3 separate regions of the Homo sapiens genome follow, and regions 1 and 3 are each linked to region 2. Evidence: fine-mapped expression QTL. A gene starts in region 2. Each other region holds a variant in brackets. All regions are shown on one strand. Distances are between the middles of the regions. Region 1 overlaps GNS (glucosamine (N-acetyl)-6-sulfatase). Region 2 holds the start of GNS (glucosamine (N-acetyl)-6-sulfatase). Region 3 has its middle 50 kb from the start of GNS.

Evidence for each region.
Region 1: its variant is fine-mapped to the expression of GNS in pancreas (GTEx, PIP above 0.99). The same link has a PIP of 0.9 or more in nasal epithelium.
Region 3: its variant is fine-mapped to the expression of GNS in whole blood (TOPMed, PIP above 0.99).

What each region holds. Positions count from the first base shown.
Region 1 is chr12:64,715,025-64,717,772 of GRCh38, reverse strand. It overlaps GNS (glucosamine (N-acetyl)-6-sulfatase), which reads left to right. Exons shown (of 14, transcript NM_002076.4): 14 at 954-2,748. The coding sequence ends at 1,032. Among named protein-coding and RNA genes, the nearest start is that of GNS, 43 kb to the left of the region's middle. The variant C/T (reference allele first, on the strand shown) is at 1,301.
Region 2 is chr12:64,757,827-64,760,587 of GRCh38, reverse strand. GNS (glucosamine (N-acetyl)-6-sulfatase) reads left to right here and starts at 1,182. Exons shown (of 14, transcript NM_002076.4): 1 at 1,182-1,503. The coding sequence starts at 1,312. It also overlaps a transcript of TBC1D30 not described here. RefSeq lists an enhancer at 1,756-2,636.
Region 3 is chr12:64,708,318-64,711,078 of GRCh38, reverse strand. No RefSeq gene overlaps it. Among named protein-coding and RNA genes, the nearest start is that of GNS, 50 kb to the left of the region's middle. The variant T/GGT (reference allele first, on the strand shown) is at 1,383.

The DNA.
Region 1 (2,748 bases), 43 kb after region 2:
TAAGCTTTTGTCATGCACTGTGGCCCTAACTTTTGCAGTTTAAGGTGTGGCAGCAAAACTAGAATTCGTTTTTCCTTCTTCATGATTTCACAGATAGAAGATTCATTCCTGGCTGGGCGCGGTGGCTCACATTTGTAATCCCAGCACTTCGGGAGACCAAGGCGGGCAGATCACATGAGCCCAGGAGTTCTAGACCAGCCTGGGCAACATGGTGAAACTCTTGTCTCTACAAAAAAAAAAAAAAAAAAAAAAAATTAGCCAGGTGTGGTGGCGCACGCCAGTGTTCCCAGCTACTCTGGAGGCTTAAGACAGGAGAATCACTTGAGCCGGAGAGGTGGAGGTTGCAGTGAGCTGAAATTGTGCCACTGCACTCCAGCCTGGGCGACAGACTGACTCTGTCCCCCTGCCAGCGCCCCCACCAAAAATGACTCATGTTTATGGTGAGGCTCTTGTAGGTCTTAGCAGTCTTGCTGTATGATTTTTTTCTTTCCTTATTAAGTCAAGAGCGTTCACTTTTTCACTTAAAGGAAGCACTTTATGGCTTCTCTTTGGCATTTCTGAATTGGCAGCACCACTACTCTTGTGGTTTGGAGCCATTGTTAAATAAAATCAGGGTGACTTGAACACAAGCACTGTAATAATGTAACAGTTGATCCACCCCTACTCCCTCAAAAGAAAAAAATCTCAAATCTTGCTGCCTTCTGACACCTTTCAAGACTAACCTACTTGTTTTTCTCCTCTTGACTTGCACTGTGTGACTTTGTGTGTGCTGACTGGTGATAGAAATGTTCGGAACTGTCGAGGGCTCATGTTTTGTACCATAGACTTTCTCACTAGAGTCCCTTCTGGTGATTTGTTTCTTTTACACCCCTTCCTGCTATCCTTTCCACTGAATAATATTCTGAGTGAGAAGCTAGTGAGAGCTAATGTTACATTTGGTTTTTCCTCCCCAGATACAGGTTTGACCCCCGTCTCATGTTCAGCAATCGCGGCAGTGTCAGGACTCGAAGATTTTCCAAACATCTTCTGTAGCGACCTCACACAGCCTCTGCAGATGGATCCCTGCACGCCTCTTTCTGATGAAGTGATTGTAGTAGGTGTCTGTAGCTAGTCTTCAAGACCACACCTGGAAGAGTTTCTGGGCTGGCTTTAAGTCCTGTTTGAAAAAGCAACCCAGTCAGCTGACTTCCTCGTGCAATGTGTTAAACTGTGAACTCTGCCCATGTGTCAGGAGTGGCTGTCTCTGGTCTCTTCCTTTAGCTGACAAGGACACTCCTGAGGTCTTTGTTCTCACTGTATT[C/T]TTTTTATCCTGGGGCCACAGTTCTTGATTATTCCTCTTGTGGTTAAAGACTGAATTTGTAAACCCATTCAGATAAATGGCAGTACTTTAGGACACACACAAACACACAGACACACCTTTTGATATGTAAGCTTGACCTAAAGTCAAAGGACCTGTGTAGCATTTCAGATTGAGCACTTCACTATCAAAAATACTAACATCACATGGCTTGAAGAGTAACCATCAGAGCTGAATCATCCAAGTAAGAACAAGTACCATTGTTGATTGATAAGTAGAGATACATTTTTTATGATGTTCATCACAGTGTGGTAAGGTTGCAAATTCAAAACATGTCACCCAAGCTCTGTTCATGTTTTTGTGAATTCTAGGCTGGTGCTGCACTGAAATAGAGCAGTAAGCTTGTGATAAAGGCCAATTCCAGGTAGCTCTTGAAGGTGATAGCCATCTACTTTCCAGTGGCTGCCAACCACAGGGAGTGCCAGTTAACACTGGAAGGATTAAGGCAAGGTCCCTTCTCTTGAGACTCCCCTCTGAGATCTGAAAAATGAAGTGGCTTAGGAACATCAGCAGTGAAGAACTGCCAAGAGTTGGTGAAGGTTGTCTCTTCCGAGGGCCTTCTGAAGACAGGGCTCTTGAACAGACAAGTGGAAGGGCTGTACCAGGGATAAAGGAAAGAAGTGCCTGTCCAGCAGGGAGCTTGAATTTAAGTTCCATGTATGAAGTCATTGGCTCTATCTGCATTTTTCTGTCATTCTCTTCATTTGTTTTAAGGTGGAAAATTTTCTTACAGTTGATGCAAAGTATCAACTACTTTACCCTACCTTCTCCCCTTTTAGATGGGTTCTTCCTGAGTTTTGGAGTCTTGTATGATTATCAGTATTCCCCTGTCAAAATCAAATCTATTCAGGTTTCTTCACTGTTGAGAACACCTAAATGTTTTTATTTTTGAGAAGTGGGGACAGAGTCTCACTATGTCACCCAGGCTGGAGTGCAATGGCATGATCTCAGCTCACTGCAACCTTCGCCTCCTGGGTTCAAGCGATTCTCCTGCCTCCGCCTCCTGAGTAGCTGGGATTATAGGCACGCACCACCACGCCCAGCTAATTTTTTGTATTTTTAGTAGAGACAGAGTTTCACCATGTTGGCCAGGCTGGTCTTGAACTCCTGACCTTGTGATCCACCCACCTCGGCCTCCCAGAGTGCTGGGATTACAGGCATGAGCCACCACGCTTGGCTAAGAACACCTAAATTTTTATGTTTCTTGGCTCAAAAACCAGTTCCATTTCTAATGTTGTCCTCACAAGAAGGCTAATTGGTGGTGAGACAGCAGGGGAGGAGGAAGAGCTGTGGTTTGTAACTTGTTCAACTCAGGCAATAAGCGATTTTAGCTTTATTTAAAGTCTTCTGTCCAGCTTTAAGCACTTTGTAAGACATGGCTGAAAGTAGCT
Region 2 (2,761 bases):
ATATCTCTGTGATTTTTTGTTTGTTTGTTTGTTTTGAGACAAGAGTCTCGCTCTGTCCCTGAGGCCAGAGTGCAGTGGCTCACTGCAAGCTCCGCCTCCCGGGTTCAAGCGATTCTCATGCCTCAGCCTCCCGAGTAGCTGGGATTACAGGCGCCTGCCACCACGCCCAGCTAATTTTTGTATTTTAGTAGAGACGGGGTTTCCCCACGTTGGCCAGGCTGGTCTAAAACTCCTGACCTCAGGTGATCCACCCGCCTCCCAAAGTGCTGGGATTACAAGCGTGAGCCACCGCGCCCACGGTGGGCGGTGAGAGGAGAGGGGCAAAGTCTAATTATTCCAGAGCGACCACAGAAATATCTGGAGCTAGTTTCAAGGGCTATTCCCCGCTAAAGATTACTTAATAATGCAGTTGGATGACCACGTTTCAAGATTTTTGTTCGATCTGCACATCCTCCAACATGTTCCAAGAGGGTGTTTAAAAAGTCACCAAGGACCATTAGGATAACCATTAGGATAAAGCTGTCAGGACATCCCTAAATTGTTTGAAACTACGATGTCTGCTGAGGAAAGAAGAACATAATTAGGCTTTGGAGTTAAGAGAGCTAACCAGTTCCGAATTTAATGTCTGAGCCAAATGAGAATGTTAAGATTTATCTCACAAGTTGTAGAGAAAATTAAAAACGATTAAACATCCGGGCCTTGAATAAGTGCCCGTCGACTTGGGGATTAAATATGGTAGAGTCCACTTTCCTCACCAGCTGATGATAATTTCTGTTATGTACAGTCCTCCTTTCTCTTCCTTTATCGGTTGGTTAGTATTTGCCAACTCTTTCCTGCTTTTCATCTTCTCTTCCCCCCATTTAAATCTTTCCACCAAGCGCTCAGAAACACGTACGTCCTACCAGAACGCAACCCGAGCCTGCGCGAGAGGTACGTACAGGTCTTGACCTTTTCCCGGTTCTCCGCCCTTTTCCCGGTTCTCCGCCCTTTTCTCCGGTTCTCCGCCCTTTTCTCCGGTTCTCCGCCCTTTTCTCCGGTTCTCCGCCCCTTTTCCGCCACTGCCTGATGCCTCCCTCCAGGCTGCGCCAGTCCGCAGCCCCGCCCACGCCGGCCGTCACGTGACCGCGCAGCGTGCTCCGCCCCCTGTCCCTGGCTCACGTGATCGCGCCTAGGGAGAAAACGTCTGACTCCAGCCACCGGCCTTCAAGGCACGGCTTTTTATTCCTTCGGCTGGTCGGCCTCTCGCCCTTCAGCTACCTGTGCGTCCCTCCGTCCCGTCCCGTCCCGGGGTCACCCCGGAGCCTGTCCGCTATGCGGCTCCTGCCTCTAGCCCCAGGTCGGCTCCGGCGGGGCAGCCCCCGCCACCTGCCCTCCTGCAGCCCAGCGCTGCTACTGCTGGTGCTGGGCGGCTGCCTGGGGGTCTTCGGGGTGGCTGCGGGAACCCGGAGGCCCAACGTGGTGCTGCTCCTCACGGACGACCAGGACGAAGTGCTCGGCGGCATGGTAACTCTTCTGTTTCTGCCCCGCCCCTCTATCTCTTGGGCTGACTACCCGGTTTGTTGCTCTCTTTCCCGGTCCCCACCACCCTCCTCCCCGAACTGGCTGTCTTATCCTTGGGTAGGTTTGGTTTTCCCACCTGAGGCCCTTTATGCCGGTGTAAGGGACTGCAATACTCTTTTCCTTTCTGGATTGAGGCACATGCGTACAGCACACAGAGCTTCTAGTCTGGACCGTACTGCTGTGGAGTTTACGTTAATATCTCAAGATAAACATGTGGAGACCAGTGGAGGATGGGTTGAACCAATGAGGATCAGGTGCTGTCTAAGAGCACTCAAGGCCTGATTGTTTTTCTTTTGGATTAGAGGATCACAGACAAGTCCAGTCCCCTTTATGAGGGACCTAGACCACCTCCACGTTTGTGCCTGTATACAATGTCTGTATCTGATGTCAATAAAAATAAGCCTGGGCCGGGCGCGGTGTGTCACTCATGTAATCCCAGCACTTTGGGAGGCCGAGGCGGGCGGATCAGAAGGTCAAGAGATCGAGACCATCCTGGCCAACATGGTGAAACCCCGTCTCTACTAGAAATACAATAATTCTAGCTGGGCGTGGTGGCGCGCAGCTGTAGTCCCAGCTACTTGGGAGGCTGAGGAAGGAGAATCGCTTGAACCCGGGAGGCAGCAGTTGCAGTGAGCCGAGATCGCGCCACTGCATTCCAGCCTGGCGACAGAGCGAGACTCCGTCTCCAAAAAAAAAAAAAAAAAAAAAAAAAAAAAAAGGCCTGAAGTGAACTAATCTGGTAGGCCGACCGTCGAACTATTGAGGGTGTGTGTTGCCTCACAAGAATCAAGAAAATTCAATTAGTGTGATTGAACACCTGACTGTTGCATTAGAGACTGTCAGTGTTTCATTTTCTATCTAATGGGTGTTGTCACAAGACTTCATTTTTTTTCCAGAGTAAATTTTGCTTGTGTATTGCAGAATTATGGAATGTGTGACCTTTGGAAACATCCACTCCAACCCCTTCCCCATGGAGGCCCAGAAAGCAACTTGCCCAAGACATGAGTAGTTGAGGCAGAGTCCTCTGACCCTGGGTTCAGCATTCCTCTCTTCGCTTTAAAACCAAATGCTTTATTGCTTTCTTCGTTTCAGTTCTCTTTTTGCTTTCAGCTGAATGCTGAGACTATGAAATACTCCAGGCAAGACGTTCCTAACTTTTCTTGTGTAGTTACACACCCTAGCTCAGTGTCCTTCAAACCTC
Region 3 (2,761 bases), 50 kb after region 2:
GAGACAGGGTCTCGCTCTGTTGCCCAGGCTCGATGCAGTGGCCCTATGTTGGCACACCACAACCTCTGTCTCCCAGGCTCAACTGATCCTCCCATCTCAGCCTCCCAAGTAGCTGAGACTAAAGGCACACACCACCATGCCCAGCTAATTTTTGTATTTCTAATAGAGACGGGGTTTTGCCATGTTGCCCAGGCTGGTCTTGAACGCCTGGGCTCAAGAGAGCCATCTGCCTTGGCCTCCCAAAGTGCTGGGATAATGGGCATGAACCACTGCACCCAGCCACCACCAGTGGATATAAAGGGCTGGTAATATGTATACACGAAAGTCTGTTGAGGCAAGAGCTGACAACCAGAGAACCCAAAGGATACAAGCTAAAAGCATCGTGCTGAGATCTCTATTGATGGCCTAGAATCACTGAATAAGACAAGATTTAGATGTGGGACATGGGAGCTAGCTCCTGGAGTATGGTAGAGTAGATGACAGTTCTAAATCTTTTTTTTTTTTTTTTTTTTTTTTTTGAGATGGAGTCTTGCTCTGTCGCCCAGGCTGGATTGCAATGGCGCAATCTCGGCTCACTGCAACCTCCGCCTCCCGGGTTCAAGCGATTCTCCTGCCTCAGCCTCCCGAATAGCTGAGATTACAGGCGCCTGCCACCACACCAGGCTAATTTTTGTATTTTTAGTAGAGACGGGGTTTCACCATGTTGGCCAGGATGGTCTCCGACTCTTGACCTCGTGATCTGCCTGCCTCGGCCTCCCAAAGTGCTGGGATTACAGGCGTGAGCCACCGCGCCCAGCCTTAACAATTCTAAATCTTAGTCTTTGAGAGGAAGATTTCATGATCACCTGCTGGTGAGACTGATATCCATATATGTCATCATAACCTGCACCTCTAACTGATGATGATAGGTTCTCAAAGGATAGAGAGATATAAAGATGCTTGTAATTATCATTTTAGGAGGATAAAACAGCTCCATAAGATAGATTTATTTCCCTCAGCTTAATTTATCGAAACTCACAAAGCTAATTCGTCAAAGAAGAGTCAGAATTTCAAAGATGTGGTTTTAAAGCCATCTTTCCATTAACTCTGCTGTCACCATGATCTGTGAGGCTGTGTCCCCACCTCATTATATATGTGAGTGCCTACTCTGCCTGGTGGTGAGCTTAGTTACAAAAGGGAATTATTCTATTCCTCCAGGACATTACTATGTAGACTGAAAAGAGAACTCGTCTCTCATACCTGTACTTACAGGGAAACTATGGTTTCAGACTAAGAGGAGAAGGTGCCACTGCCATTCAAGTGTCTTCTTGTCCTGCACTATAGCCTTGCTGTCAGAAAACAAGTAAAAAGAGGGCTCCTCTCTGTATGCCTCATTTAACTGT[T/GGT]TCCAGCATGGCTGTGGTAGCCAGCCTCCAAGATGGCGCCTAATTATCCTTGTGCAGTTTCCTCCCACAATGCATCAGGGTTGGTCCATGTGACCAGTAGAATAGGGCACCTGTGATGCTGTGTGACTTCCACAACTAGGTCCTAAAAGACATGGCCACTTCTGCCTTGCTCTCTCTTGGATAACTCTCGGAGAAAACTATTGCCATATCAATGACACCAAAGTAGATCTTTGGTAAGGTCCACATGGTGAGGATCTGAGGCTTCTTGAAAACAACCAGCCCCAACTTGCCAGGCATGTGAGAGAGCCACCTTGGAAGCAGATCCTCCAAGCCCCAGTCAAGACTTCAGATGACTGCAGCCCTAGCCATCATCTTAACTGCAGCCTCGTGAGAGACCAAGCAAGGACCATCAAGCTAAGCTGCTACTAGACTCCTGACCCACAGAATATAACAACATGATCTAAAAAATGGTTTTTGTTTTTTGTTGTTTTTTTTTGAGATGGAGTTTCGCTCTTGTTGGCCAGGCCGGAGTGCAATGGCACGATCTCGGCTCAGGACAACCTCTGCCTCCCAGGTTCAAGCAATCCTCCTGCCTCAGCCTCCTGAGTAGCTGGGATTACAGGCATGCACCACCACGCCTGGCTAATTTTGTATTTTTAGTAGATACGGGGTTTCTCCATGTCGAGGCTGGTCTTGAACTCCTGACATCAGGTGATCTGCCCTCCTCGGCCTCCCAAAGTCCTGGGATTACAGGCGTGAGCCACTGCGCCCAGCCTAAAAAATGTTTAATGCTGTTGTAAGCTGCTGGTTTGGGGGTAACTTGATATGCAGCAATATATAACTAATATAATGACCGAAGCTGGTTTACTGAGAGAAACTGGGCCAGCCTTTTGCCAAATCTATTAGGCGGGTGCAAAAGTTTTGCCAATGACAAAAAACCGCGATTACTTTTGCACCCACTGCACCCAACTGTAGGTACCTGTAGTGAAACCGTGCCCCAAAAAGTTAAAGAAAAATGACTAAATTCTTGGACTTACAGGATAGCAGATAAGAAAAGAACTTGCTAAAAAACTAAAACTGGCTGGGCATGGTGGCTCATGCCTGTAATACCAGCACTTTGGGAGGCCAAGGCAGGTGGATCACCTGAGGTCAGGAGTTCGAGACCAGCCTGGGCAACATGGTGAAACCCCCGTCTCTACTAAAAATACAAAAATTAGCTGGGCGTGGTGGCAGGTACCTGTAATCCCAGCTACTCAGGAGGCTGAGGCAAGAGAATCACTTGAACCCAGGAGGTGGAGGTTGTAGTGAGCCAAGATCGCACCACTGCACTCCAGCCTGGGCAACAAGAGTGAAACTCCATCTCAAAAAAATAAATAAAT